2 separate regions of the Homo sapiens genome follow, and region 2 is linked to region 1. The links come from fine-mapping of genetic effects on gene expression. A gene starts in region 1. The other region holds a variant in brackets. All regions are shown on one strand. Distances are from middle to middle. Region 1 holds the start of TRIM36 (tripartite motif containing 36). Region 2 has its middle 20 kb from the start of TRIM36.

What was found. PIP is the estimated chance that this variant, and not a neighbour inherited with it, causes the effect.
Region 2: its variant is fine-mapped to the expression of TRIM36 in lung (TOPMed, PIP above 0.99).

The regions. Positions count from the first base shown.
Region 1 is chr5:115,162,495-115,178,937 of GRCh38, reverse strand. TRIM36 (tripartite motif containing 36) reads left to right here and starts at 9,030. Exons shown (of 10, transcript NM_001300759.2): 1 at 9,030-9,330; 2 at 15,186-15,420. The coding sequence starts at 9,304. RefSeq lists silencers at 8,615-9,034, 9,765-9,854.
Region 2 is chr5:115,181,696-115,198,138 of GRCh38, reverse strand. No RefSeq gene overlaps it. Among named protein-coding and RNA genes, the nearest start is that of TRIM36, 20 kb to the right of the region's middle. The variant G/A (reference allele first, on the strand shown) is at 6,444.

The sequences.
Region 1 (16,443 bases):
CGCAGATATAGCATATGGAGTAGTTTTAGATTCATGCCCGACAGTCCTATGGCCCCAGGGCTGGGGAGCTGGTTTAATGCACTCTTAGCCTAAAAAGTCCCAAATGAACCCTACGCCTCTCTGAATTCTCTTGTTCTACAGGCACTGAATACATTCATCAGAAACAGAATATTCATTAACATTTCGAAAGTGAAGCTGTGTCTTGGGCCTCCCCTACCATTTACAACCCCGGGCCAGAAGTACAATTGGAGAACTCTCCTTCCACTTTTCTTCCAAGCCCAGACTCCATCCTGCACCTCAAGGGGCCTTCAGCACACACTGTCCAGTATATCCGAGCTCTTTGTCGCCCCAGCAGCAGCCCCTTGACCACCCTTCGGGCCTAGGGTGCATATTGCGGCCCACCCTTCCCTCTGAAGAATGGACCCTGGGAAGAGAAGTCCTGATAAGAGAAAGGGCTGGCTCTGAGCAAAGAGGCAGGCAACCAGAGGAGGGCCAGAACCACGGCCTCTAAAGAGCGAGAGGTGCAGGCAGGACACCGACTGCCCAGGTCTAGGGGAATGCCTAACAGGGGCATCTATTTGGGAACGTTGAGGGGCTAGGGGGCAGGGAGGAAAAAGAATGCCTTTGGTTGAACAAAATAAATGGACTACTCTTGATAGGATGGAGAATAGGATGATCGATAGGTGAATTTTGTCCTATGGCGCTCAGATATTCTTCAAAGTAAGCCAGAATTGTATTAGTTGGCTATGCTTTCCTTCAATAGCAGACAAATCCTGAAATTCTGAGAGAATAATTTCGGGGTAGGACCCAGGGATTTGCATGTGAAGAACAGCCCAGGTGACCATGAAGCCGACTGATGGATGTCCTATGAACACGAAATGGGGAAGTAGGGCAGAACCATTAAAACTCCTTATAATCAAGTCAGGTAAACAAAAACAAAACCCTCTCAGAATACCAATGGGTTCATCACAGTATGCTCACTATAATGAAAAAACACAAACTAACTTTCTGGCTTCATTTACTGGATTTCTCTGCTCTCTCTCTCTCTGTCTCTCTCTTCACTAGGCTTCAGCAATGGGCCTGCAGCAAACCCATGAGCATTCCCGGTTGACTTCTAAAGGTGGAGAGGCCCGCTGTCCCTTTGAAATCTCTGAGGTTGGAAAGCAGTCTCTCCCAAGAAGAACTTAGGACAATTCCTCTCTCTGTTTTGTGGGGGTTGGAGGGGGAGAGTTGGTCTGGAGTAGGCTCCTAACCATTTCAACGTAAGCTTATTTCCTACCACTCTCCTCAGGCTCAAATCCTGCCCCGCCCCGCAGCCCCAGCACTAGCCCATTTAAGACCCCTGTTTTGTGTGTGATTATACAGGATTTGAACACTGAATATTAACCATGGAATAGCAGACCTTTGAGACTGACTTGCTTTATTTTCCTCTGTGGGGTTCGGTTCCACTTTGTAGTTCGGGTTTGTAATGTAAAGAATAATGGGAAACTGGTCTAATTATGAGAGTTAAGAGAGTAGAGGCCTGTAGTTGGCCTGCCCTCCGCCCCACCATCCCTCAAAGTTGAGACCACTGAGTTAACCATCCTCTTAATTTCTCTCACTTTTCCCCCAGATTTGTTTCATCCTTGTACTGGACTTCTCAAGCTCTGTACATAATTAAAAATACATAGCTTTACATTTTTACAAACTTAATACCTGGAATATATGCTTGTTGTAAAGTATTCAAACTTCACAGAAAGGTTCACAGAGTAAAAAGTCTAAGTTCATGCCCACCTCCAATCTCATTCCTTCCCCAGTGGCAGCAGTTTGTGTGTCTATTTCAAATTAAATTAGCATACCGTATGTTCTCTGAAATGTGGGAAGTAAGCCTTTTTTCTTAGGGTAACCTAAAACCTACAGGACAAACTGGATCAGCTTATTTACTCTATTGTGATGGCTACTTTAATATTTAAAGTACACAGTGATATCTGCCATTGTGACCTTTCTGCTCATCAAACAATACTGCATAAGTGTAGTTAATACTTACGATCATTCTCAAGAGGCTTAAAAATGAAAATGTATTTCCTTACATTTCACTAGCAGTGAAACTTTTACCATTTCTGAAAGCTGTCTTTTCGCTTCTTTTGCAGCTAATCTCTTTGGATTAAAAGAGAGGTTTCCAAATCTGTGGTCAATATCTAAGGTTACTCAAAGCAGTATTTTCCAACTGTTTTGGTCTCTTGTAAGATTTGCCTCACTAATTTTTTTATCACCGCTTCTGGAATCATATAATGAAGATTTGATGACAAGGAATATAGAATTCAAATTTTAGTATATCTCTTTGTATTTTGTGTATTTAGCATATTTACATTTATGTGTAAATAGCCAGAAGGTACATTCGGTTCCCATAATTTAATATTTACTGTTCAGGCACATCTAAGAGCATAATGGTTTCAGCAAAATAAGAGAGGCTTTGTAAATCTTATATTTAATTTTGATACTGAAATAGGCAATGATACCATTACTTGGTGAATTATTTTAACTTTGAACATCTTTGAGGCACAAAAAATTCAAGAATTTTTACAAACACAAACTTTACCTTAAAAAAAGAAGACACTTACACTCTGAAAGAATTAGTCTTGGAAAGTCCTCAAATCTAGACTAATAAAAGGTCTTAAACATCTCCTGGGACCAAAACAAAAATACCACCAAATGATCTCTTTCAGAAGGACGAATAGATAGTTGCTCACACAACTAAAATCTAAACTGGGGTGATAATGGTAAGGTTGTGCCCACTGCATAAGTATTTTTATTTTTATTTTTATTTTTTTTTGAGACACAGTTTTACTCTGTTGCCCAGGCTGGCGTGCAGTGGTGCAATCTCAGGCTCACTGCAACCTTCACTTCTGGGTTCAAGCGATTCTCCTACCTCAGCCTCCCTAGTAGCTGGGACTACAGGCACACGCCACCATGCCCGGCTAATTTTTTGTATTATTAGTAGAGACAGGGTTTCGCCATGTTGGCCAGGCTGGTCTCGAACTCCTGACCTCAAGTGATCTACCTGCCTTAGCCTCCCAAAGTGCTGGGATTACAGGGGTGAGCCACCGCATCCGGCCTACAAAGTATTTTTTAAAGGTTTTTTAAATATATGTATTGAAATTGGGTGAAATGTATGTGCTGTGGGGAGTAGGGAAGGCAGGCAGAAGATTTAGATTTTTGTAATATCATTTGAAAAGAGCTACTTTCATAAATATAATTTTCCTCTTATTTTTTTTTACTATATTGCGCTAAAGATAATTTGAAAAAAAAAGGTGTCTCCTAAACTACTTTGTAAAAGGATGTTTAAATCAGATTTTTAGTGAAATTGTAAATTCTGTGTTGTATACTCACCTGTGGGCAGTGCAATAAGGATGCTGGACTGAGACCCAGGTTTGAATCCTGGCTTTTTAGTATATGGCCATGTAGTATATAGCCCATAGATTAAGCATATTACTTAATCTATGGGCGGAGGTGGAGAGGAATTTTAGTTGTTACATGTCTTCTCTGAAAAGAATTATACCTATTTCACAGGGTTACTGCAAGGGTTAAATGAATCTTTTATGCAGGTTTCCTAATACTGTTATCGACACATCATAGGCCCTCAATAAATGAAAGCTATTACTTCTAGCTTTTATGACAACAGGGTTGGGCCTTGAGACACCTTATATCCACATTGTGATCATTAAGAAGTGGAGGTAGGGCTGACAGATAAAATACAGGATGTAGACTTGAATTTGAATTTGAGATAAATACTTTTTTTTTTTTTAGAATATGTGCAATGTGATATTTGGAACATATACTAAAAAATTATCATGTATCTGAAATTCCAATTTAACTGGGTGTATTGTGTTCTTATTTACTAAATCTAGTAACCCTACAGGGAAGAATAATAAGATGTGGTCAACAGAGAGGGACCTGCTAGATTGCCTCAAAATATTACCAGTTTTGTTTACCTCAAGTTGGCCAGAAAACTTCTTTGCCCACTAGTTATGCAGCTAATACACTCATCATTAATGGAAAAATGTCCGTGAGAGCAGCACTGGGTTCCTCTCATCTTCCTAATAGCAAATTGTTGCTCTGGTGCTACTGTTTAGTAGATAAATGCTTACTAGATTTTGTCTTAAATAAAAGCTTAAATGGTCGAGAAGACAAAACATCAAACATCAGTGTACAAAGACTAGGTATTTGTGTTAAACTGAGTGCTAAAAGAATTCAGAATAGAGGGAGATAATCAATGAAATCAAAACTAATAAAGGAGGCTCCAGAAGTGCAACTTGAAAGATGAGGAGGATTTGGCCAGGTAGTGGAAATCTGAACTTGCTGGCTCTCTGGACTCCTCTCCCCTGACTTTGTTCCCATAGAAACACTTTATGACTGGTAAGCTTGGCCTGTCAGTAGCTTGAGTCAATAATTGATAGACAATACCATTCATTATCCCTTTACTGGTAACCTCCTGATACCCAGCAGTATAGGTGGTCCGTGTGCCAATCTACTGGAAAACCCTGTAATTTACTTTATTTCTGTACTTTTTATTTTCTGTAAGTCCAGGTGCTCTCTTGATTTTATACCTATGGCTGCTTAATTATTAGGGGTTCCCAAAAGGGGGCAGAGTTTAGGGAATATGTGGCCATATTACCTTGTTTCTATTTCTTGTTTAGTATATACCAATAGAATGGTGGTACCCTGCCTGTCTGATCTCAGAGCAAACCAATTAATATGCACCATGGTCATTAGGACTTGACCCAGCCATGAATTTAATCTCTTGTTGGGTATTAGGAATCAATATGGAAAAAGACCAAGTCAGCTTATGGAGTAGTATATGATTTATAGGGTAAGGGGTTTATATTTTAAATATCAAGCAATGAACATTGATTGAGGCTCTGTTTTATCAAAGCCTGAATTGTGTGTGTTTGGAGAGGGGAATCTTGACCTTTTGGACTTCATGAAGTAGATGGATGTGAGAGAGCTCATGCCCCTGTGATAGAAGAGCAATTAAGTAATACCAGAAGTAGAAAAGTAGATATCACAATGAAGGCAAGAGTATTGAAGGTCTGTGGACTTAGGGGGATAAGAATAGGATAGGTTTTCTTGTTTTGCATTTTAACCCAGATTTTAAAATAAACTATTGAAAAAGGAGGTGCTAGGATACTCCAAACTGCGGAGGAATAGGCACCAAGGGACAGCATATACAATGTAAAATAGGGGAATAATGATTTTTTTAAAGTTCAGATATTTCATGCCATTCCTGCTAAAAAGCCTTCAAAAGCTGCTCAACATCTACAAAAGCATAGAGGCCTTCCATACTTTACCAGACTTATTTTGTTACCACAGGTTTACCACCCTCTAACTCCTGCTCTTCAACACATGCGTGCGCGCACACACACACACACACACACATTCAAATACACATGTCCACACACCCCCCACCCCCTTATGTTCCAATACCAAGCTGCCTGTGGTCCAGGACTGTAGCTTATTCTGCTCCTTGTGCAAATAGAGGCATGAGGACAGGGCTACACATATGGAAAATCATCTGTAAATACTCAACTTATAGGCTACTGTTGTAATCTAGGCATGCGGAGAGGGGGCTTAGAGTGGGCACAGGAATCAGCTGTGAGGATGAGAAAGAACAGAATCTGGTAACAAACTATGATTTAAGGCTGATCAGAGATAGACAGGGAAGAAGAAAGGAAGATAAAAAGCAAGCAAACAAAACCCACCAGGATTTTAACTTGAGGAACTGGGAAGGGTCTTGGTATCCTGGGAGGCTGGGATATTTCGATGCTGAAACAGAGAAGTTGATGACTTGACACAAAGCACGGCAGCCCAGGGAGACAGAAATGATCAGGGAACTGGGAAAGCAGTGGTTTAAAATGGCAGTTTTCGTATTTGTCTTCTTCCCCTCACCTTTTGTTTTTAAAAGTTTATGGATAGAAAGGATTTTTAACCTTAAAAAGTTTTAGAACTATAACATGTACATATAAGATGGAAAGATAATACAATGTGAGTGAAGAGTTAAATCTTGTATACCTAACTCCATCCCTTACTTCTCCACAATGGTTATCATATTTTGTGCTCTATTCCAGATGCTTATTTTTGTTTGCCTGTAATCAGATATACCTAGTTTTTTGGCCAGAGTGGCAGCATTCAGAATCCTTATGGTTTTGTACTTTTTTTTTTTTTTGAGACAGAGTCTCGCTCTGTCGCCAAGGCTGGAGTGCAGTGGCACGATCTTGGCTCACTGCAACCTCTGCCTCCCGGTTTCAAGTGATTCTCCTGCCTCAGCCTCCTGAGTAGCTGGGATTACAGGCGTGTGCCACCACGCCAGGCTAATTTTTGTATTTTTAGTAAAGGGGGGGTTTCACCATGTTGGCCAGGCTGGTCTCGAATTCCCGACCTCAGGTGATCCACCTGCCTCGGCCTCCCAAAGCGCTGGGATTACAGGTGTGGGCCACTGCACACATTATATTTTAGAAATCCTTTCTCATCAGTACATTGATTTTAACTGCTGCATAGTATTCCATGGTATGAATGTATATTATGCATGATGTTTAGTTATAAATAAGGTCTCAATAAGCTCTTTGTACATGTTTTTGTGCACACATGCAAGTATTACAGTAGGAACATTCTTAGATGTGGAATTGCTTAGTCAAAAGGTAAAAATATTTAAAATTTTTGATAGGATTTGTAAAATGTCCCTTGAGATAAGCTGTACCAACATACGATATCACAAAAAGGTTTGAGCAAAATAAGAGAGGCTTTGTAAATCTTGTATTTTTGATAGAGAAATAGGCAATGATACCATTACTTGGTGAATTATTAAACTTTGAACATATTTGAGGCACAAAAATATTCAAAAATTTTTACAAACACAAAATTAAAACAAGAAGACACTTATACTCTGAAAGAATTAGGCTTAGAAAGTCCTCAAATCTAGACTAATATAAGGTCTTAAACATCTCATGGGACCAAAACAAAAATACCACCAAATGATCTGTTTCAGAAGGATGAATAGATAGTTGCTCACACAACTAAAACCTGTGCTGGGGTGATAATGGTAAGGTTGTGCCCACTGCATAAGTATTTTTATTTTTTTGGAGACACAGTTTTGCCAAGTGTATTAACACTTGCCAAGTATATTAACATCATGTTTGAATTTTGTGGATCAGGTAGAAAATGATAGCTCAGTGAAGTCTGATTTGCAAAATGGAAGGCCATAGCAATGTATTTTCACCAAAATATTGTCTATACAGATTTTATCTTTAATTCCTGTTAATGGAGCCTTCTAATCACTTTTACTGTGTCAACTAATAAGTTTTGGATCAAAGCAGGTGTGCGGATGTGAAATTACAGCCCAAGGGGAATTATTTAGCTCAAAGGCCAGTATGAGAAAGACTTATAATGCTTTCTAATGGTTGAGCCTTTAAATATATGTATATATATATAGGCACCTAATTCACGCAGGCATTTGTTAGTCTCCTCCTGATTAGCACTTTTCAGAACCTGTGGGAAGGAAGCCTTCCCAAGTCTAGCACCTGCGGCCACGCAACGGGCATTAATCCGGATCAGAACAGCCCAGGCATTATTACCTGGCAAAGCTTTCGTCCTCTGTTCACCTCATCTGTAAATGGAGGGTATTCCATTAGAGAAAATTGCTATAGTCCCTCAGTGTTTTTAATTCTACACTCCTTATTTAGATGCCGGATTGGAGACGAGGCTACCGCTGCAGACAGGGCTGTGGGAAGACGACGGAACTTGCCACAGCGACAGACTTCTCCCAAACAGGAAATAAAAGTGGGAAGCATTTTAAAACCTAAACGAGATGTCTCGCTACAGCTCTGTAGTCCCTACTTACCCAGCAATTTAGGGCATCTGTTCTTAAAGCCTAATACATAGGAATGAATTGTTTAGCTAGCCAGAAAGGCAGTGCGTGATCTAATAATCCTAAATTAATTTGTTCTCCGTGTGTCCTGAAAACAACACCAGAAACACACTTGGGCCGTGGCAGGTGAAATGTGCGCCGCCAGTCCTTGAGCTGGCGCGCGCCTTAACGTTCAGCAGCACTCCCCGCGGGGGTGCGGGGGTGCCGGAGCCGCTCAGGACCCTCTGTCCTGGCCCTCAGGAAGGAAAGCGTAGGCCCGGGTGGCGGGGGGTCTCTCCCTTGCCGCGGCCTTTTAACTTCAGTCCCTGGCCAGCATCCGGGAGAGGAATCTCCACCCTGCAGGCGGTCCCCGCGCTACTGGGCAAGAACGTGCGGTGACATCGCGACTTGGGGGTATAGAAGCAGAAAGCGGGATATGACTGCTCGGTGCCCAGTCAGGGACTATTAAGTTCACCCAGCAAGTGAAGCCAGAAGAGAACTGGGACAAGCCGGGCGGGGCCAGGGAACCCCAGGCCGCGCCTGGCTAGGGACCGCGGAGAGGGCGGGCGGGGTCTCACTCTGGTCGCCTCGCGCAGCTCTGCCGTGCTCGCCGCGGCCATTCAGGGAAGGTGGCTTAGGCTCGCCCTCGCCCGCACCGTCCTGTGCCGAGCCTGGAAGCGGGGCTTCGAACCGCGAGTGAAGAAAGCGCAGTGAGAGCAAACTGAAGGGCGGAATGGCAGCGCAGGGCCAGGGGCCAGGGGCCAGGGCTGCAGCCGGCTGCTCTGCTGCAGCGGAGCCTCCCCGCCCCGGCGCCGCCCTCGGCACCCGCCCACCGCTCCCCGCTGCCCTCACTTCCGTTCCTCAGAGCCCCCCAGCCTGGCATAGGGCGACGGGCGACTACCCGGGTGGGAGGGAGGGGCTGATGCGTAGGGGGAAGGTGGCGGCGGAGGGCGCCGAGTCCCAACCGCGTGCCACACCCACGCCCAGCCGAGTCCCGCTCAGCCTACCACTCAGACACCCGGCCTACCAGCCCCAGGCGGCCCCGCCTCTTTTGTGCGACTGGCGCTGTTGCCTGGGCAACGACCAGGCCACGCCCTGTCCACGCCCCGCGGTGCCCCGCCCAGGTCTCTGCGCGGCGCCGTTCCCAGCCGCAGTCCGCAGGAGCCGCTGCTGCAGCCGGCAGCTGGGCGGGATTCCCGGGGTAGTCGCTGGGAGCAAAGCTCGCTTCTCCCGCGCCTGTGCTTTTGCCTGCCCCGGCTTACTTCTCCCCGCGTCGGTCCGCTGGCCACGTACAGCTGACCAGCTCATCTTCCAGCTTCGGACCGAGGCTCCACGGCCGCCGCAGGGACCCGCCCACCAGACCCTGCGCTCGGTAGCCGGTGTGAGTGGAACGTGCCGCTGATGACACCTGGCAGAAGGCAGCCATGGAGGGCGATGGCTCAGATTCGCCGGTGAGTGCGGAGGGGACCGCCGCCCCCACCTCGAGGGCGGTGTGCCGACCGCGGCTCTTTCTCTTTCCTCCGCCGGGAGCCCGGAGGGAGCCTCCTCCCGGGAGAGCAAAGGCAGGCGTGTGGGGATCCCGCTTCCTCTTCGCCTTCTCCCGCCCGGGGCTAGGTTCCGCAATCCGGGGCGTCCCCTTTCTATCCCCGAGAGCCGGACGTGGGGTCCCCTGGGCCGGAGAAGAGCGCAAATCCGATGGTTGCCCACCTGAGCACCTCGGGGGAATCATGGAGGGTCTCTCTAATGGAGCTCAGGCTGTAGAATTAATTAGCGTTTGGGAGTCGGGTGCGGGCAGAAAGCTGGGGCGCGTCCCTCGCGCTTGCGGGGCCGCCCTTTGTCTAGGCGTCTTGACCCCCGCGGGCCCGGCCGGCTGCCGCCGCCTGGGCCAGAGGCTCCTCCCCGGCTTCGCCTGCCCGCGGGGGGCGGGCCGGGGCCCCGGCAGCTGTCAGCCTACAAGTGTTTTTGTTTAAAGGTGTCGAATGTGCAATTCTTCCGAAGTTTCTCGAGGAACTGCTTAATTGAGGGAGCCGCCACATCACACTTAATCAGTTTGTTTCTCCCTCAATGACAGATGAACTAAATTTTCTCTTGGGTAAGAAATACTTTATGTCCATTGTGATTAAAAAGTCAGATTCAAGACACTGCTTTATGTACAAGAAAATGGAAATGATTTTAGATCCTCCCCCAGTGACAAGTAAACCTGAACTGACCATATTTATACATAAAATGGAATGTAAGAACCTATTTTGGATATCCCGGACAAGATTTTCTTTTGAATTAGGTGCCAAACCCTTTGTGAAATGAGATAGGATGTGAATATTCTGTATTCTTTGATGTGAATTGTGAGGTTTAGTTATCTTATTTCCAAATCTGTGAACAGTTGGGAGGTGATATGGCTCTTCATCACATATTTGAGTGATGCAGCAAGAGACTGCATCGAAACACCCACTGACAATGATAAAACCAGTTGGCTCTAATGCAGTTAAATTGTCAGAGATTATTGAAGCACTTGGTGTCACTTTAGGGAGAATAGGTTAGCATACATTTTAAAATTTCATTACATTTAGTTAAGTCAATTTTAATTTTCTGTGTATTTCTAGTAGCTGAAATGATTGTACAAGGTTATAAGTACTTTGAAGTTGGGCTGTCTTTAAAATTGCAGGGATGCTGACTATAGGATTCATAGATATGAAGTCTGGGATACATGGAAAAAACTACGTAGAGAAATGATGGGGAAACTGGTATGAGGTCATCAAACTTTTTTAGTTGTGATGAGTCTAAAATGCTTCTCACTTAAAATAATGAAAGGCTGTAGTATTGAGAGCAGTTGTAGTGGTGCTTATACACCTTTTTAAAGGGTCCCCTACATTCTTTTAATATTCTGTTATGGTTAGGCTTTGTGTCCACACCCAAATCTCATCTTGAATTGTAATCCCCAGGTGTTGAGGGAGAGACCTGGTGGGAGGTGATTGGATCGTGGGAGTGGTTTCCCCCATGCTGTTTTCGTGATAGTGAATTCTCCCAATATCTGATGGTTTTATAAGGCAGTATTCTCTGTTCTTACTCCCTCTCGCCTGCTGCCATGTAAAACGTGCTTGCTTCCCTTCCTGCCATATTTGTAAGTTTCCTGAGGCCTCTCCAGCCATGCAGAACTGTGAGTCAATTAAATCTCTTTTCTTTATAAATTAGCCACTCTTGGGTATTTCTTTATAACACTGTGAAAAGGGACTAACACAGAGAATTGGTACCAAGGTAGTGGGCACTGCTGTAAAGATACCCAACAATGTGGAAGTGACTTTGGAACTGAATAACAGGCAGAGATTGGAACAGTTTGGAGGGCTCAGAAGAAGACAGGAAGATGTGGGAAAGTTTGGAACTTCCTAGAGACTTGTTGAATGGTTTTGACCAAAATTCTGCTAGTGGTATGGACAAAGAAGTGCAGGCCAAGGTGGTCTCAGATGGAGATGAGGAACTTGTCGGAAACTGGAGTGAAGGTGACTCTTGCTATGCTTTAGCAAAGAGACTGGCAGTGTTTTGCCCCTGTCCTAGAGATTTGTGAAGCTTTGAACTTGAGAGAGATGAAGCGGAGCGTAAAAGTTTGGAAAATTTGCAGCCTTACCATGGAGTAGAAAGGAAAAACCTATTTTCTGGGGAGGGATTCAAGCTAGCTGCAGAAATTTGCTTAAGTAAAAAAGACTCAAATGTTAATTGCCAAGACTATGGGTAAAATGTCTCCAGGACATGTCAGAGATCTTGGCAGCAGTCCCTCCGTTTGGCAGGGCCAAACAGGTGCATTAATGAAGAGAGCCCCATCACAGGCCTGGAGGCCTAGGAGAGAAAAATGTTTTAGTGGAGTGGGCCCAGGGCCCTGCTGCTGTGTGCAGCCTCGGTATCACAGGATCCTTAGGGTGTCGCTTCACCAGCCAGAAACCTCTGTGGCAAGTGTTGCCTTTGCCCAAGTTTTGCTCAGGCCCACTGGGCTTGTTCTGCCCACTTGACCCAGCAGGCTGTGCTTGGTTTTCACTACTGGCCCAGATCCCACGGCTGCCAACGGCAAGCCAGGTGCAGAGCAGCAAGGGGTGCATGAGTGAGCGAGCGCGGGGTACAGTGTGCACAGCCAGGCATGGTGGCTGTGGCGGGGCAGGCAGGTCCAGGTGCCAGTATGGGCGCCGGCTCCTTGCTGTGGCTGGAACAGGTGTACCACAAGTGGCTCCCACTACAAGCACTGTGGAACATGGTGGCACCCAGAAACTTGGAGATGCCGGCAACTGCAGAGCCACAAAGAGGATGTCACAGCCCTGGCTTGGGGAGCTCCTAAGTCCAGGCTCCCTGAAGGGCTGCAGCTCTTCTCTCCTCTCTTGTCTCCTCATCGTCACCCACAACATGGCGAGCAGCAGGGTGTATTTGACACAGTTTGTGTTACAGCTTGTTTGGTCCTGCCATTTGGCAGGTCCAGAGTTCCTGTACTGTGTCCAGGAAGAATGAGCTACATGGACAACTGGAGGGTGAACAAGGTGCTTTATTGAGCAAAAGAGTAGCTCTCAGGAGACCTGTCATGGGTAGCTGCTTTCTGCAGGCAGTTCCTCCCGACAACTGCAGCTCTCAGCAGAGAAGAGACCCGGAGTGGGTACCTCCTCTCTGCAGGCAGGTCATTTTGTCGAGTGTGCAGTCCTCAGTGGAGAGGAGACCCAAGTGGGTAGCTCTTACCTGCAGGCAGGTCGTCCTATCATCTGCCAGAGTCTGGCTGAGTTTGCGGTTTTTATGGGCTTCAGAGGGGAGGAAGTGTGTGCTGATTGGCCCATGGGTGGCCATGGGTGGGCCTGGAAAATTCACTGTAAGTTTTCACTCCAGTCAGTGGAACTGGCAGCCTGGACCCTAGGCTTCAGGCTATCCCTGGCTTGAAGGTGGGGTTTCAGCAGGGACCTGTCCCTTTCCTCCCAGGAGCCTGTCTCCCTCCCACTGCTGTTCATGGTGCCCAGACTGTTTTAGCTGAGGGACGCCTGCAGTACCACGTTGAGTCACCCTCAGCCCTGCCCTTGGCCTCCCTCCCACGTTCATCAGCGCCCAAAGTCCAGAGGGAGCTGAGGTGGCAGGGGGCTGGTGTGTCAGCATCTCCTCAAGCACACACACACCTGGCCAGGTCATGTCAGTGCCCGGGCTTGGCCACAGCTTTTCTCCAAAGTCAGAGTGGGCACTGGGAATGGGGAGAGGCCAAGCAGTAGGAGCAGGCACTTCTGAGCATGTGGGGGAAGAGAGGCATCCTGGGCCCCCGAGAGCATAGGAATGCCCTAGTCCACAGCTGGGTGGCTGCAATTGCACCCAGGAGCATGGGGCTCCCTCCGCACCAACTCGGAAGGGAGAAGGGCTCCTGCCTGTTCCTGGGTCCCGCTGGCTCTGCAGAGCAAGCAGGTCCGGCTGTGCCTTCCCAACTGCAGCCAGCATCTTTGCAGCAGCTGCTCCAGATGGGCTGCAGCTGCCATCACTGGGACTTGGTGCCCTGTGTCCCAGCTGTTCCAGTACCAGTTGTGGCTAAAAGGGGCCAAGGTACAGTTCAGACCATTGCCTCAGAGGGTGCAAGCCTTGGTGGCTTACACATGGTGTTGGGCCTACCAGTGCACAAAAGTCAAGAGTTGAGGTTTGGAAACCTCTGCCTAGATTTCAGAGGATGTACAGAAACACCTGGATATCCAGGCAGAAGTCTGCTGCAGGGGCGAAGCTCTCATGGAGAACCTCTGCTAGGGCAGTGCAAAGGGGAAATGTGAGATATAAGCCGCCACACAGAGTCCCCACTGGGGCACTCCCTAGGGGAGCTCTGAGAAGAGGACCATGGTCCTCCAGACCCCAGAATGGTAGATCCACCAACAGCTTTCATCATGCGCCTGGGAAACCTGCAGATACTCAATGCCAGCCATGAAAGCAGGTGGTGTGTGGGCTGTACCCTGCAAAGCCACAGGGGTGGAACTGCCCAAGGCCATGGCAGTCCACCCTTTGGATCAGCGTACCCTGAATGAGAGACATTGAGTCAAAGGAGATCTCACTTGTGAGCTTTATGACTTAATAACTGTCCTTTTGGGTTTCAGACTTTCATGGGACCTGTAGCCCCTTTGTTTTGGCCAATTTTTCCCATTTGGAATGGGAGCATTTGTCCAATGCCTGTACACCCATTGTATCCTGGAAGTAACTAACTTGCTTTTGATTCTCCAGGCCCCTAGGCAGAAGGGACTTGCTTTGTCTCAGATGAGACTTTGGACTTGGACTTTTGAGCTAATGCTGAAATGAGTTAAGACTTTGGGGGACTGTTTGGAAGCATGATTGGTTTTGAAATGTGAGGACATGAGATTTGGGAGGGGCCAGGGCCACAATGATATGGTTAGGTTCAAATCTTATCTTGAATTGTAATCCCAAGGTGTTGAGGGAGAGACCTGGTGGGAGGCCATTGAATCACAGGGGTAGATTTTCCCCATGCTGTTCTTGTGATAGCGAATTCTCATAAGATCTGATGGTTTTGTAAGGCAGTATCCCTGCTCTTGCTCTCTCTCACCTGCCACCACGTAACACAGATCTGCTTCCCCTTCTGCCATGATTGTAAGTTTCTTGAGGACTCCCTAGCCATGTGGAACTGTGAGTCACTTAAATCTCTTTTCTTTATAAATTACCCAGCCTCAGGTAATTTTCTTTATAGCAGTGTGAAAATGGACTAATACATACTCATAAAGTGCTTTTAAGATAATTGCTTTGATATACAGCATGAGAACCTCAGGCATTAATGAAGAATGGTCGCATTTAATGTAGAAAATTGCTGATAATTCAGCTTGTAAATAGATACCAACTAGGTTTCCATGAACATACTGACTCAGCTAGTGTTTAATAGCTCCTGTTATTTGTCAGTCACAGTGTTAATTCACTAAATAAGAATATAGTCTTACTCTTAGTGCTGTATTCAAAATTTTTATTGACATGATCTACTTTTAGGATTTCACCGAAGTCCTAAATCAGTGCACTGGTGATGGAGATTCGAATGATGGCTTTATAATTTTTGATAAAATATCATGGTCCCCTAATATTTTACATAATTTTTCTCTTCATTTTTGCCTTTTACTATCTCATGTTCCTTCAGTTCTGGGTTATGGGTGTTGAGGGCAGTTGATGGTATCAAATTTTATTGGGGAAAAGAAATTTAAAATTTAGAAAATCATTTTCTTAATTCTTTTTGGAAAAATAAACACATGTACTTATTCAGGAGGTATAAGAATGTTAATATATTTACCCACTAAGAGCCTTTAACTTGGACTATTTTACTCTCAAGGTTACCATTAAGAATATCGAAAGGGAGCTCATTTGCCCAGCATGCAAGGAGCTGTTTACCCACCCATTGATTCTCCCTTGCCAACATAGTATCTGTCATAAATGTGTAAAAGAACTCCTGCTGACTCTCGATGATTCATTCAACGATGTGGGATCAGACAACTCCAATCAAAGCAGTCCTCGACTTCGGCTCCCCTCCCCTAGTATGGATAAAATTGACCGAATTAACAGACCAGGTATGTGTTAGAACTGTGGGCTGGGATGGTAGTGGGGGTAAGCTTATAGATATATATTCAGTGGTAACTGGAAGGAAAATTATTTTTGTCATCTTGAGAGTTAATTTTTCCAGGTGAATAAATTAAAACTGTAGTTATAAAGGGGCCTCCCCCACTGTTAAAATGTCAAAATGAACTCTCGTCTTTTGATACATACTTGAAGTAGATATTGGATATTGAACATGAACTTTGTGTTAAACTCCTTATTAACTGTGTTTGTAAGTCTGGGCACAGTGGCTCACACCTGTAATCCCAGCACTTTGGGAGGCCATGTCGGGTGGATCACCTGAGGTCATGAGTTCAAGACCAGCCTGACCAACATGGAGAAACTCCATCTCTACTAAAAATACAAAATGAGCTAGGTGTGGTGACGCGTGCCTGTAACCCCAGCTACCTGGGAGTCTGAGTCAGGAGAATTGCTTGAACCTGGGAGGCGGAGGTTGCAGTGAGCCGAGATCGCGCCATTGCACTCCAGCCTGGGCAACAAGAGTGAAACTCTGTCTCAAAAAAAAAAAAAAAGCTATGTTTGTCTTTAGGAATTATTCTGACTGTGCAATGTACTTGATACATAGAATAATGGACTACTGAAATACTAACTAGGAAAACATTCATATATGGTAATAGGAAAATAAATACTGCAGAGTTAAGGAGTGGGACTACCTAATGGCTAGTCATCACCTTTATGTTTCCTCCCTTGCTGCCAATCTGGCGCACTGAGGAGGGAAAGACAGCATCCCTTGAAATCAGTCCTACTAGATAAAACTTGATATTCTGCTGGTAGATCTTCATTGGCTAATTGGGAACCCATGCTTGATTGACCAAAGAAAACTTTTTGTATGTTAATATTTAGCAAAAACAAATAAAATTTTAGTTATGTACTAGATATTTCTACTTATAATTAGATTGCACTTATATACATATTTCACAAAATTCTGTAGGCTTTTAATGTTAAGATTTGGCTAGTTTTTTATGTGATTCATATGA
Region 2 (16,443 bases), 19 kb before region 1:
TACTATGTTCAATACTGGAGAAGGAAGATGTTTTTATTGAAAACAATTACGAAGTGGGGTTGGTTCAGTGTTAGTTATATTGAAAACGTTTATTGATTGATTGAGACAGGGTCTTGCTCTGTTGCCCAGGCTGGAGTGCAGTGGTGCAATCTCATCTCACTTCAACTTTGACCTCTGAGGGTCAAGCGATCTTCTCACCTCAGCTTCTTGAGCTGGGACCACAGGCACATGCCACAACTCTGGCTAATTTTTTGTATTTTTTGTGGAGACAGGGTTTTGCCATGTTGCCCAGGCTGGTCTCAAACTCCTGGGCTCAAGCGATTCACCCACCTCATCTTCCCAAAGTGCTTGGATTACAGACATGAGCTACCATGACCAGCCAAACGTTTATATTTTATCCCTACCTTCCTTATAGATGAAACCTTAAAAAGTAATTTCTAAATGGGAGGATTATAGTATATAAGCAGAAAAATGAGTTTCAGGAAGCACTGCTTTTAAGTCTTTTCAAACAACTTTGGATGTGAGGTACCATTGAATTCATCTTGCTCTTTGTTGCCTGTGTACCTTTGTGTTTTTTGTTATTTGTTTTTGCTTTTTAAATTGTATTTTTGTTTTATAAGTCCTGTGTGACTTATGCTTTAAAGAGGTTCTGTTTTGATGTGTTTCCAGGATTTGTTTCAAGATTTAGAGCTCCTTTTTGCAGTTCTTTTAGTGGTGGCTTGGTAGTGGCAAATTCTCTCAGCATTTGTTTGTCTGAAAAAGACTGTATCTTTCCATCATATATGATGTTTAGTTTAGTTTCGCTGGATAAAAAATTCTTGGCTGATAATTGTTTTGTTCGAGGAGGCTGAAGATAGGGCCCCAATCCCTTCTAGCTTGCAGGGTTTCTGCTGAGAAATCTGTTATTAATCTGATAGGTTTTCCTTTGTAGGTTACCTGGTACTTTTGTCTCACAGCTCTTAAGATTCTTTCCTTCATCTTAACTTTAGATAACTTGATGACAATATGCCTAGGCAATGATCTTTTGCAATGAATTTCCCAGGTCTTCTTTGTGCTGCTTGTATTTGGATGTCTAGGTCTCTAGCAAGGCTGGGGAAGTTTTCCTCAATTATTCCCCCAAATATGTTTTCCCAACTTTTAGATTTCTCTTCTTCGTCAGGAACACCAATTATTCTTAGGTTTAGTCATTTAACATAATCCCAGACTTCTTGGGAGCCTTGTTCATATTTTCTTATTCTTTTCTTCTTTGTCTTTGTTGGATTGGGTTAATTCTAAGATCTTGTCTTCAAACTCCGAATTTCTTTCTTCTACTTTTTCAATTCTATTGCTGAGACTTTTTAGAGCATTTTGCATTTTTATGTGTGTCCAATGTTTCCTAAAGTTTTTATTACATTTTTCTTTATGCTAAGTATATCCTTGAACATTTCTTCCTTCACTTCTTGCATCGTTTTTTGGATTTCCTTGCATTGGGCTTTGCCTTTCTCTGATGACTCCCTGATTAGCTTAATAACTAAGCTCCTGAATTCCTTTTCAGGTAAATTTTTGGTTTGGAGCCATTGCTGATGAGCTAGTGTGATTTTTGGGGGATATTAAAAAGCCTTGTTTTGCCATATTACCAGAATTGGTTTTCTAGTTCCTTCTAATTTTGATAGGCTCTGTCAGAGGGAAAGTCTAGAACTGAAGGCTGTTCAGATTCTTTTGTCCCATGGGGTGTTCCCTTGATGTAGTACTCTTCCCCTTTTCCTATGGATGCAGCTTCCTGTGAGCTGAGCTGCAGTGATTGTTATCTCTCTTCTGAGTCTAGCCATGCAGCAAGTCTACCCGGCTCCAGGCTGGTACTTCAGGTTGTCTTCACAGAGTCCTGCGATGTGAACCGTCTATAAGTCTCTCAGCCATAGATTCCAGCACAGTATTTGGGTGTCTCCTGGGTCCTGCAGGAGCAGTCCACTTTCTTCAGATGTTCTGTGGGTCCTCTCTGGATTTCTGGTTTGTTCTCGCAGTCGTTCTGGAGCAAAATTCATGATGAGAGCCTCTGCATGCTGCTCTGAGTCGGAGCTGCAATTTAGTCCTACCTCCCGTGTGCCATCTATTTTCACTGCAATTTATTAAGATGAAATTTTATGTAAGTCATAGGAGATTGCAAACTGGGTTATGACTGTTGAGTGTTTAATACTCATAGTATTTGTGGAAGATAATGCTTCTTCTATGCTTGTAAATTTGTAATAGCATAATGGAAGTTATCCATTAAATGTTGCTAGTCTACACAACATGTATCTGGAATGTGCTTTCCTTCAGCATTCTATGATATTATAGTTGGGGGAGAGAGAAAGTGGACAGAAGGGCATCAATGAAGATGCTTGACTGCATCAAAAGCAAATGTTTTTCCCTCCAGTTCTTTTCGTTTTGTAATGCTGCATCTCATTTTATGTTTCACTGTTGTCTGAAGAGGGGGCAAAAATCATCAACTGAGAAAACAACTGAAAAAAATTCTTACGGGGAATTTTTTTATTTCAAAAATTGGTTTCCTTACTAACAAACTTTAGGTAATTTAGCTTAAACTGGGCTTAAACTTCAGGGGACCTAAAGGCATTAATCTTTTCTCCTTAAACACAGTACAAAAAGAGTTTCAATACTAGATGACCCAGAGGAAAGGTATTATATTACCCAAACCTGCAAGTATTATCATACTTTTCAGTCATTGAGACAGTTCTTTCTTTGGTATTTTTTAAGTTAAGCCATCATATTAGAAAAAAATTTAAAACAGAATAGAAGAAGTACTATTGCCCAAAAGATCTCGCAGAGCTGACCCTTCTCCCATTCCCCACTTCTCTCCAGAGGCAACACCTGTGAGCAGTTTCTTTTCTAGAAATTGACCTGCAGGTACAATCTCATATGTGTGACTATGTTCCTACACACATACTTATATACAACGTTAACCTAAAGGCCAACTGACTCCACAGAAATTCACATTTCTTTCATTTCATACAGTCTCACATTTTCCTATTCCAAATATCTATTATAGGTTGTTAGGAAAAGTGACCAAATTAGTAATCATTGTCACAGTTTCAAAAAGGGCTAAGGAGTGACTTGGCAAAATGACTTATAATCTCATAAAAATAATTAAGCAATAATAACTGAAAGGTCATAGAACAAGAGTTTTATGTTTTAATTCTACTCCTCCTTTGTTGCCACTGCATGACAGAATCTTTGGACTTTGAGCCTTGGCAGAGTTGGACTGCTGCAGAAACCACCACAGTCTGGCATGAATTAAGTCCCACTGCAGAGGTGAACTGGAGCCAAGATTTCAATCTCCAAATGATTACTACTGGGGGAAAAAGGCTCTGGGCCATGCTGACAATGAATATCAGCTGCTTTGGGTAACTGGGACTGTTTGCACTCCTCTCCCCGCAGCCGAAAAAACCAAATTGTGGTTCTTATAGTACTGACTGGATTATTTGTGCTACATTGCTTCCCCACTGTCTTCACATCATAGAACATGTCGAAAAAAATTATTGCATTTGTAGGGCACCCGCAGTAAACCCAGGAGGCAACTTATAGGCAGAATTCACCATCCTGGAAGCTCTAGTTGAATCGTGTCCCAGTTCCTTTCAAGGGCTGAAGGTATGTCTTAGTATATAGAATTCATTCCAGGTAATAGAATTTGTAATTTGTAAATATTTGCTACTTAACACATGGTCTGTAGACCAACTTTATTGTAGCAGGACATCATCTGGGGCATTTTAGAAAAGCTGACGCTCAGGCCCCACCTGAGACCTATCTATGCTGCCCAGGCTGGAGTGCAGTGGCTATTCACAGGCATGATCATAGTGTAATACAGCCTTGAACTCCTGGGCTCAAGCACTCCTCCTGCCTCAGCCTCCTGAGTAGCTGGGACTACAGGTGCAAGCGACTGTGCCCAGCTAGCATCTATATTTTAACAAGGTCCCCAAATGAGTCATATGAGCATTAAAATTTAAGAAGTGTTGGTCTACAGGTAATGTCTACCTCCGTGGCATGCTTTAAAAGGCCTTGGAGATCTACTCCCTACCTATTTTTCCAGCCTCATCTTTGGTAACTGCCTCTTTCCGACCCAATGATAGTAAAGTATCTAACACCTGAAGGCACTGTACTCGCTACCCTAGTGCCTTTGCACAGGTGGTTCTTAGCCTAGAATTAATTCTCTTTACCTGCCCTTTTGAACTCTTATTTATCGTTCAACTCTCAATTTAAAAGCCAAGCTTCACCTGCCCCAGCAGATCTAGGCAGAGGGAGCGACCAGCCTATTATAAAGCCTTCCTTCCTCTTGCTTCCTAGTTCTGACTATGTGCCTTTATTATGGTACTTACCACATTGTACCATAATTCTGTTTATTCTCTATTTTCCCAAGCAGTCTCTGAGCTCTTGGTGTCAGTATCTTTGATTTACCCATTTTTTAATTTCTAGGAGGTAAACACAGTACATGATATGTATGCAATTCATGCTTATTGGAGAAATCAGGTAATCTTGTTGGCCATTTCTGCTGGAAAATTACTTCCTCTTAAAAATGATAATGTATATAATATTTGTAAGTCATTTCAAAATAATTGTTTGTAGTCCTCTGATTTGTGGCCAGTTTCACAAAATGCCAGAGAGCATATAAATCCATTTCTTATCACTCAGACCAGATATAAAATCAAGGTCCATCTTTTCAAGATTTAATGTATTTTAATGGTCAGTTTATATAATAAAGTGATAGCAATGAGGAACTAAACCATGTCAAAATAAGTTATGGAAGAAAACATCTTCTGATATGAACACTGTCTAGTAAATTGTTGTTCAGTGCTTTTTACCCACCAAAAATGTAGATATTGGTCAGTCTTTTTTTTTTTTTAGATACTAAGAAGTTCTTTCTAATTCCTAGCTGGTATATGTCAACTTTAAAAATCATGTTCTTGGCCGGGCACGATGGCTCATGCCTGTAATCCCAGCACTTTGGGAGGCCGAGGCAGGCAGATCACCTGAGGTCGGGGGTTCGAGACCAGCCTGACCAACATGAAGAAACCCCATCTCTACTAAAAATACAAAAAAATTAACCAGGCGTGGTGGCACATGCCTGTAATCCCAGCTACTCAGGATGCTGAGGCAGGATAATCGCTTGATCCCGGGAGGCGGAGGTTGCAGTGAGCCGAGATCGCGCCATTGCACTCCAGCCTGGGCAACAAGAGCAAAACTCCACCTCAAAAAAGAAAAAAGAGGGGCATCCTACAAAATACCTGACCAGTACTCCTTAAAACTGTCACAGTCATCAAGAACAAGGAAAGTCTGAGAAAGTGTCACCGCCAAGAAGAGATAGGAGAATTATTTGTAACGTAGTATCCTGGATGGGATCCTGGAAAGAAAAAGGACACCAGGTAAAACCTAAGGAAATCTGAATATAGTTAATAATAATGCATCAGTATTGGCTCATTAATTGTGGCAAATTTACCATGCTAATGTAAGATGTCAATGAAAGGGGAAACGGGTGCAGAATAGTTGGGAACTCTGTACTATATTTGCAATTTTTCTGTAAATCTAAAACTTTTCTAAATTAAAAAGCTTATTTTTTTAAAAAAAGTATACACCATGTAGTAAAGTCCTGTCGTATTTGTGGGATTCTACTGTGCTGGCTAATATACCATCTTCTTTATAGAAACCTTGAACCAAACCCATCGTTCTCTCCTCTGAAGAGCTTAGGGCACTTTATAGACAGGGATATATGTTTTTATTGTTTCTACTGATCCAGGTGGCAACTTTTATGATTCCTGGGTTATATAGTAATGATATCTGCCATAGGGAAGGGCTTAGTAAAGGTCACCAGAATGGCAGCATAGCTGGGTGTGGAGCCTTGTATGGTACTTGTTCCAGTGCCATTCCAGGCTGGGCAGGAAAACTGGCCAGATGAATTCAATTCCATTAAATTCAACAAATATTAACTAGCACCTACTATGTATTGTAAGCACTGGGAAGCTATTAAGTTGGTGCAAAAGTAATTGCAGTGCAAAACTGCAATTACTTTTGCACCAACCTAATAAAACTGAAAAAGATTCTGTTTGCTGCTCAAGGACAGTGTGGTGTAATTGGGGAGAGACAAATGTATCAATAGACAATTTCAGTACAAGAAGTTATGTATCACGACAGATGTGTAAAAGGTGTTGAGGGAGCTTGGGAGGAAAGATACCTCGCCAGGCAGGAGGTGAGTATTGAGCCCTAGGAAAAAAGTCCCAGCCTGAAGTGCAGGTGAATCCTGGTTAGGGGGAAATGTGTTTTAGTTCTGTAGGGGCTCTGCTATGTCTGATTTCTTAAGCCTTGAGGGCTCTTCTGAAAGGTTTACTCAATAGCAGTAGTGGGACTACTTTAAAGCCAATTTTCCTGGCAGGGCATCAATCTTACTTTCGGGAACTCAAGTTTTGTGAGAACATGAAAGC[G/A]CTTTGATATATACGAATAGCAAAATCATAGTTCAAATAACTTGGCTTACTCTTCTGTCTCTGAGGTATGAATGGGGAAGGGAGATTTGCGCCGGATTTTGTGGACTGTAAAATATGCTGGCACTCCTAGGAGGGTGGTAACCGACCTGAACTTTCTGTTTATACCTTTAGGAGTGATTAATCAGGACAATGGAGATTAATGCTATTTTCTTCTACCCTTTGATAGTAAGGCATAAGCATTTTTTTCCTTAGGCTGTGAACCAGATCTGGGAGACACTTCCTGGGCCCCTTTCCTCCCTGTGAGAAATTTAATAATCCACATTCTCATTAGATCTCTAGGTCTCAGTGTGAGGCACTGTACAAAGCCCATTTTGCAAACATGAGAGACTTTTTTCTTTTCAGTAGTAAGTCACTGCATTAGAGAAGCAATTTCCTGATATGGAGGTTCCAAATAAATTGCCTGTGCTATCTAAATGTTTTTCCATGTATTTTGAAATTATTTGCTCTCTTTCCATGCCATTCTCTGAGGGATGAAGAGCAGCCAGCTGTTGGGTCCTCTTCTCCTTCTGCTTGCTGTCAGCACCACCTCCCCTCATCCTAGGAGGTCCTTCTGTCAAAGGCAAATGCCCATGACATAGCCTGAGACAGTTAACATCCTTCCTTTCATATCCACTTTCCTAAGCTAAGAAGAGTAGAGAAAGTATTTGCTTGGCTGTATTCAGCATCTTGTGTCTCACAGGCTACAATTCTTTGGTAAATTATGCCACTAATTGTTTAGCCATCAGGGAAAACTGGTCTTTTATAACATTTTCCTTTTCTGAGTCTCCCTAACACAATGAAAAGGCCCTAGTGTCCAGACGAGGATTTAAAAAGTGGAGTCTAGGGATAAGTTTACAATGCTTGGGGAAGAAAAAGGATACCCCACGAGTGAGAAGGCTGAGGCAGGAGGGGTGCTTGAGCCCAGGAGTTCGAGGTTACAGAACAACCTGGGTAGCTGATGCAGTGGAAGACATCACCTAAGGGATTTTATTATCTTTTGTGAGTAATGGAAGACTGGCATGTAGAATAACAAGATTCAAATATGACCACAATCAAAGGCACCTGAGCAAAGAAACACGCCCAGGCCCTTCCGAGTGGTTGAGGCTTGAAAAGTAAAGGCAGATAGTGGAGAGTTTTTAAATATGAGACAAGAGTACTGGGTGGTGGCTAGGACCATGGGGTCTCACCTGGCTCTGCCACCACCCCTCCTAGTGACTTTGAGTAAGTAGGTCACTCCACTGTTTGTGCCTCAGGGTGATTATCTGTAAAAGGCAAATACAATAGTACTTTGCGGAGTTTTGTGAGGATTAAGTAGGATGATATGAGTAAGCACTTAAAATGGTACCTCACCTATAATGAGAGCTTAAAAAATATTAGCTGTTATCATTATTATATTAAGATGTGAACAGAGCTCACTGGGGAGTCATCCTAAAGTTAAGACCCAAAGGCTCAGAAGGCTTTTAAATAAATTAGCTGGAGGAAAAAATAGATTCCTTGAAAAAATTCAGGAAATTTCCCTTTAAAAAACAAAAAGGCTTAGTTACAACCCCCACACACCTGCTGGCAGGTGGAGCCAGTCACAGCAGGAGAAGGAAGATGCCTGGAGCTTCTCAGGAGCATGGCTCAGACCTCCTCATGTCTTCTCCCACACGATTTAAATTTAGAATCCTATTCAGAGGACAATTAACCAAAGCTAAGTATACTGTCGTGCCTAGGGTCATGAACTAGAACCAAGCCAACTTGGCCTTTATTGGAACAGTGAACTTGGGGCTCCAGCTCTTGAGCCAGCAAGCAAATGACCTGTTGACTTAAGCAAGTTTCAACTTTCACCCTCATCTCAGAGCTCTGGTAAGGATTAGAACAACTCGAGTATCTTTACAGAATGACCTGTAATCTGCAAAGTGCTTTTAATTGAGAAGGATGATGTGTTACATGTTCTGTTATGCTCTTTACCCAGGTCTTTCATCTCTGAAGAAGGCGGTGGGAAACAAATGTTATTTCTCCTCTTCATACTCCTTTTCTCATTTATTCTGCAGGTATTATATTATAGGTGGTACAAGTGAATAGTAACAATAGAGGATTCATTGAGTCTTTAGTCTGTGTTGGCTACAATTCTAAGCTGTTTACATATATTAACTCATTTAATCCTTATAACAGCTCTCTGAGTCAATACTGTTATTGGGTCCATTTTTACAGATGAGTAAACTGAGGTATAGAGAAATGAGTTGCTAAAAGTCTCACAGCTATAACATGGCTATATTAGTTGTGACTAGGCTTGGTTGTATGTAAGAGAAAACTCAAATAACATGGTTTAATCAATTAATCAAGTTATAGTTTAATTGTCTCTGGAGTAAATGAAGATAGAAGGTAGGTGGTCAACAGTTGGAATGGAAGCTCCACCATCCTTAGATTCAGGCTCTTCCCTCTTTCCTCTCCAGCCATTTTAGTGAATGACTTCTATCCTCAGGTTCTCCTCAGTAGTCCAAGATGGTGGTTGGATGCCACGTATCAGAACTGTATTTCAGTTAGAAGGAAAGGAAAGAGAGGGCAAAAGAGCTCTCCCAGAAGCTGGACATAAAAACTCCCATTGATACCTCATTGGTCAACCCTTTCTGCAAAGCAAGCTGCAAAAGGAGTTTTCCTTTTCTTTTTAAGTTGGGCACATTTCTCAACGTTCTGTTACAAAGAAGGAGGAAAAGTGAATATTGAACCTATATACCATAAAATACAGTTCATTGGACCATAACTGTGGTGTTGGTTGGCAGGTGAAGACATAACTGTATTACTGTATTTATTTCCCACTTGGAATAGTCATTTAGAAAATATAAATAAGGTGGTGCACATAATTTTAAAAATTAGAAACTTACTAAAGCTTCCAGGTTTCCCTTAAGCACAATTTATTTATAATTAAGAAAATTCTTTAACTTCACAGTATTTAAATGGTTATTTGAGACTCTTGAATTTACGAGTAAAGGAAAGGCAAAGTGGTGTTTGGGTAAAATTATTTTTCTCCTTATTTTTATTCCGAAATTTTAATCTGAAGCTTTTCTCCCCGCAAGGCATTATTCTCGGGTTTCTGTTTCAAAATGTTCAGTACTAAAGCTTTCATTTGTCTTCTAAATAAAACAAGGGAAAACAATACTTGAATTAGATAGTTAGATAGTTTTTAGTTGGATTATAGTATACTAGATTGTGGCTAATACTTTTCTTTTGACCTCAGTTTCTCCCATTGTAAAGTAAGTATATTTATTCATTTGTTCATTTATTCATTGAGTAAACACTTTTTGGACTCAAATATGTGTTAGATATTAACACTTAATATTTGATAGTCATTTTTGTTTCATTATTAACCAAAAAATGGGATAATATGTAACAAATTATTTAAAGCTTGTTACTCTTACTCAATGAGTACTTTTACAGTTAAATAAAAAGTGTTTCTTTTCATAAGGGTAAACCAAATTTGTCTTAATAGAATACTGAAAAAGAAAGGTAAAATTCCTTTTGGAATTATAGGAAATTCAAATAGTTCAAATAAATATGTATCACACAGAGAATATTTTATATTATAAATCTTTAAAGATAAGCATATTGGAAGGAAAATGTCAACAATTTTCCTTTTCAAGAGTAAACAAATGCCTTGTGAAACACAAAGTTCTCCCCTAGCAAGCTGGTGAAATGCTGAAATAGATATATTTTTTGTAAAAATACAAAAATTAGCCAGGCGTGGTGGCATGCACCTGTGATCCCAGCTACTCAGGAGGCTGAGGCAGGAGAATCGCTTGAACCTGGGAGGCAGAGGTTGCAGTGAGCCGAGTTCGCATCACTGCACTCCAGCCCAGGTGACACAGTGAGACTCCATCTCAAAAAAAAAAAAAAAAAAATCATAGCTCCCCACCTTGCATTGGCTGATCAGTGTGTAATTTAGGGACAGATGAAAAGATGCCAGCCTCTCTGCCAAGAACTTGTCCTTCCTGCTTCTCAAAGTCAATGTTATTTTTATGGTGTGATGTGTATAGAATCCTTTCTTAGCACTTTTTTTCTATTCTGTGAATTTCTTCCCAGATATTTTCCTCTTTTTGGTAGAGCTAGAACAACAGTGCTCAAGCTCTACCAAATACTCAGTTTAATCAATAAGTCGGTAGCATATATTGGTGTTATTAACATTTTAAATTTCAATTTAATGGAGATAAGAGCTGTGCCTTTTATTGAGGAACCCTGGCACAACAAGATTTTTAAAATATGTGTGAGTGGCAAAATAGAAAAATCGATATGATTTATCATTTTGCTGGAGCCAATGAACTACATGTTTGTCCATCAGACAGTAGCCAACACTATACTAATTACTACCTCCTAATATACCCTATCTCCTCACTCACTGCCCCTAAAAGGAATACTCGAACTGAATCTGAGATCCTATAAATTATCCCTCTTCCTCTCTCTAGCTTGCCTCCCTCTACACCCACATAACAAGCAATCTTCTAAAATAAATAAAGAACAACAGGATGATAGCTCTTAGGGTCAGCCTAATAAGAAACCTCATTATTTCTGGTTTAGAACATTTCAAAGCAACACCCAGGAACCTTCAGAATGGTAAAAAAACATTGATGCTTAGCTATGAGGCATGAGGCAGGAGGAGTAATACAAAGTGGACCTTTGCCCCAGGATGATGACTGAGGTATGACTAGAAGGTTCTTCATCCTCTCAAAGAGCAAACTTTTGTGGCAGTAACACAACCAGGCAAGATGAGAGAAGCAGATCAAAGAAACTAAAAACAGAGTAAGTGGTTAAATTATTTATGATGATGCTGCAGCTGTATTGATCAGAGGCAGATTTCTCTCTTAACCCTACTTTCCTTGTACCTATAGAAGTTGTCATCGCCCAAAGAATTTTTGACCTAATGTGAAAGTGTGGGGGTTGATGGAGAGAGAAGTGGGGGGAGGGAGTGGGTGAATAGCTAGTCAGGACCTTAGTTAAGAGAACACTGGTTATCCAATATGGTTCTACCATATCTAATGACAAACTAACTGATGATCTCCACATATCTCATTTCCTAGGAAAGAAATGGTGTATCATTTCACTGTGTACCCTGCAGGGAAATAAAGGTTCTGCCCTACCTACCAAGATCATATTGCCGTAGCATCAAAAAGCCCCATACAAAATAAAAGCTTTCAAAACACAGCATGGTATTAAAAGGACATCTGTATTTTAAAAGTCTCGTTTATTTTGTTTACTGCTGAATCTCCATTGCCAGACACTGCCAGGCACACAGTAGGTGGTGACTTATATTTAATGGACTATTTAATGAATGAATAATATTGGCACATTGCGATTCCGTAGATCTAGTTGAGATTCAGGCACAGAGGGACATGAAGGCCATGTGCTCAACAGCATGTCTTAGGAGGCCACTGGCTCCTGTGATAGCCTGGGCTGGCCATCCTAGGCTTGTTCCTGGGCAAAGTCTTGCTTGCTAGAGAAATATCATCCCCTGAGAATGAGGATAGCTTTAGGATATGTGCACACTGTTCTAATTCTACCATTTGAGCAACTCTAAGACAAGGAGTGATCCTTTGTTGTGACACAAACAATCCCAAGGAATTTTGTTGCTCTCTTTAGGCCAAAGATTGTGTGTAATAAATTTCTGGAGAAAACACACTGTTAAGGCTGGGCATGGAGGCTCATGCCTGTGATCCCAGCACTTTGGGAGGCCAAGGCTGGAGGATTGCTTGAGCCCAGGAGTTCAAGACCAGCCTAAGCAATATAGTGAGACCCCCTATGTCTACAAAAAAAAAAAAAAAAAAAAAAAGAAAGAAAAACTAGCTGGATGTAGTGGCATGCACCTGTAGTCCCAGCTACTCAGGAAGCTGAGGTGGGAGGATGGCTTGAGCCCAGGAAGTGGAGGTTGCAGTAAGCTGTTATTGCACCACCACACTCAACCTGGGCAATAGAGCAAGACCCTGTCACCAAAAAAAAAAAAAAAAAAAAAAAAAGAGAGAGAGAGAGAGAGAGAGAAATAATCAACTTTACCTGACATTTGTAGAATACTTCATCCAATAACCAGGAGAATATACACTCTTCTTAAGCACACATGGAATATCATCCAAAATAGGTGATATTCTAGGCTATGGGTTAGTAAATTACAGGCCAGGGGGCAGCTGCCTAGTTTTTTTTAAACCATTTTTAAGTGTTCAACTGAGTAACATTAATTATATTCAAAACGTTGTACAATCATTACCACTATCTATACCCAAAACTTTTTCGTCACTCCCAATGTAAACTCTATCCATTAAACAATCCATTCCAGACTCTCTCCAGCCCCTCTACTTTCTGTCTCTATGAGTTTGTCTATTCTAGATATTTCATATAAGTGAAACTATATAATATTTATCCTTTTATTTCTGGCTTATTTCACTTAGCATAATGTTTTCAATGTTCATCCATATTGTAGCAAATGTTAAAAGTTCATTACATGTTATGGCTGAAAAAATTCCATTATATGTATATATATTTTGTTTATCCATCTATTGACAGATACTTGAGTTGTTTCTACCTTTTGGTTATTGTGAAAAATGTAGCAATGAGCCCTGGTGTACCAGTATCTGTTTGAGTCCCTGTTATCAAGTCGTTTGGGTATATAACTAGGAGTGGAATTGCTGAGTCATATGGTAATTCTAAGTTCTAAGAATTCTAAGAGCATTCCAATTTCTCCACTTTGTCATTAATACTTGTTATTCTCTCTGTTTTTGATTCTAGCCATTCTAGTGAGTATGAGGTAGTATCTTATTGTGGTTTTGATTTGCATTTTCCTAATGACTAATAACGTCAAGCATCTTTTCATGTGCTTATTCAGCTGCCTATTTTCATAAATAAATGTTTATTGAAACATGTCCACATTCATTTGTGTACCTATTTGTGGACCTATTGTCAATGGTCCCTTTCATCCTGTAACAGCAGAGTTGAGCAGTGATATAGTTTGGATATATGTCCCCTCCAAATTTACTGTTAAAATTTGATCCCCAATGTTGGAGGTGGGGTCCAGTGGGAGCTATTCTGGTAATGGAGGTGGATCCTTCATGAGTATCTTGGTGCTGTCCTCGTGGTAATGAGTTAAGTTCTTGTTCTATTAGTTCTCATGAGAACGGATTGTTAAAATGAGCATGACACCCCCCCCCTCCTTTCTTTCTTGCTCCCTCTTGCCATGTGACATGCCAGCTTCCCTTCACCTTCTGCCATAAGTGGAATCTTCTTGAAGCCTTACTGGAAGCATATGCTGGCACCATGCTTCCTGTAAAGTCTGCAGAACCATGAACCAAATAAACCTCTTTTCCTTATAAATTATCCAGTCCCAGGCTAATCTTTTGTAGCAACACGTACTAAGCCAAGTAGTAACAGAAATTATATGGCTTCAAGTCTAAAATGTTCATTAATATCTTACCCTTTAAGAAAAAGTTGCTGACTTCCACATTAGACTATTAAAAAGCCTGAATATATTTAAAAACATTAAAATCATTCAAAGGATGATCTTTGCTCAAAACAGAATTGGATTAGAAATCAACACACAGAAAAATAGAAAATCTAAACTATTTGGAAATTTGAAATAATTTGGAAATTAACACATTTGTAAATAACCCATGGGTCAAAAAAATCACAATAGGAAATTTTAAAAATATTTCTAACTTAATTTTAAAAAAATCAAAAGTCATGGAATGTAGCCAAACCAATCAGTACTTAATGGTGAAAGAATGAATGCTTTTTCCCCAAGATTGGGAATAAGGCAAGGATGCCCACACTTGCTGCATGCATTCAATGGAGGTTCTACTGGAGGTTCTAACCAGAGTAATAAGGCAGAAAAATAAAGGCATACAGATTGGAAAGGAAGAAATAAAATTGTCTTTAATTACAGATGATATTATAAGGAATCTGAAAATAAAATCTGGAATTGATAAGTGAATTTTGCCCCATTGTAAAACACAACCTTATGCAAAAATCAGTTGTGTTTCTATATAACAGTAATTAACAATCCAAGAAATGACACCAAGAAATCAATTTTATTCACAATAATATTAAAAGGAGTACCTTGCAATATGTAATACAATAAGTACAATATCTGAACATTAAAAGTGATAGAACATTGCTTGGAAAAATTAAAGAAAATCTCAATAAATGAATATTCCAATATTGTAAAACCAGATTATGAGATGGTTTTACAAATCCATAATTTAATAAAAATAACTAAGCAGTACACTGACAATTAGTGAATTTTATGGTATATAAATTGTACCTCAATAAAGCTTATTCAAAAAAGATTTTTTTTTTAAAATGACCTTTTTGAATACAGGTATCAGTCAAATTTTAGGTTTACATTTTTGAAATAAAAACTAAGAAAATGTGAGAGTTTATTAAAAGTAAGATATTTTAGGTTTCTTCAGTCTCTAACTCTTAAAAAGCTGAACATTCTTCACAGATTTTAAATTCAAAACCTTCAAAAATACAATTTGTGTGTCACCATTAAAAAGAAAACTTGGATTGTGTATTTTGTTGATGTTATTTGTTCAAGCTATTATGTATTATGCTGGTTGCCATCAGAAGGAGAAAATAGAATGTTGTAAATCTCTATGTAATACTTATTTCAATAATTGGCATAGCAATAGAGCAGTTGAAGAATTTTCTCCATTTGATGAAAGTTGGCAATTAGCAGATTTTCCACAGCAAGGGACCCTTTAATATTGCTGGTCTTCTCAGTGTGAAAAATTCACACATCATATAATCCCTCTATTAAATATCTTCCTCTTAGGTGGGGAAGTCCCCTGTGAAGCAGCATCTGTCATGTTAATTTCATTCTTATTTTTAGAGAAATATGAATTAACATTTTTCTTAATTTTGGTTCTTTTAGGGAGTGAAGTTTTAAATTTATATGATTTTAATCTTTTTTTCAGAAGAAAGGGACATAATAAAGCAACTTTTATTTGGTACCTATTGACAGTTTGACCCTGTGTCTTTGAAGTGAGTGCATGCATAGAATTTCAGAAGAAATTTCAATGTGGTCTTCATTTTTATATGCCTATCTTCTTTGAAAGGTCTTTAATGCTCCAGAGTGTTCTTCACACAACGACAATAAAGAGTGGTAAATACCACCAGGCATTGGTGTAAATAAATGCTCAGGACCCAACTTATGTTCTCTAAAACTCTTGCCTCCACCACTTTCTTGGTCTTGGGTAGGAATCTAGGCAACTGATAAGGATATTTTGTCTGGAGTATTTTCTAGTAGCAAGTGATCAGGTGGACAGCCCTTTTTTAAGAGCGATCTTTTCAGGGAGGAGAATGGCAGCTAATGCGGCCAGATGGCAAAGGGATCCTCAGATCAGAGATTTTAGGGTTAAGAACAGGAAGGGGTTAGAGACCATTTAGTCAACACCAGTCATTTTATAGAAGAGAAAACTGAAGCTCTGAAAGTTGAATGGACTTACTCAAGGTTAATAGAAACTAACAACTTTCTACCCGATATCTGTCTCCTCTTCTTCCTTACTAACAAATCCTTGATTTTGTTTAGAGTGGCAATGTTCCCAGAACAAAATAATCACCTCCCCAGCCTTCCTTGGAGCTAGGGGATGCATATTACCCATTTCTCACAAAGGTGTAAGTGGAGGTCACTGGATGGGGCTGGGGGAAGCTTTTTAAGGGGAAACAAATGTCTTGTGTGCTCTTGTCTCTACCTTCCTCCTTCCTGCTTGTAATGCAGACATAAGATTAGCTGTTCAGCTCTAACACTGTGGTTTTTAATCAGGTGCCAGAATCCATTCTGGGTGTGAAAAAATGTTCACTTTTAGAGCAATATCTCTTTCTGGTAATCCATCAAGTGTTGCTAATAGTAGGCAAGAACCCATTTATGGATGCTACAGACCTTAGTTGAATTCTACTAGTTTTCCTATGGACGCAAAGAGTATACATGAAGTTCTACAGAACT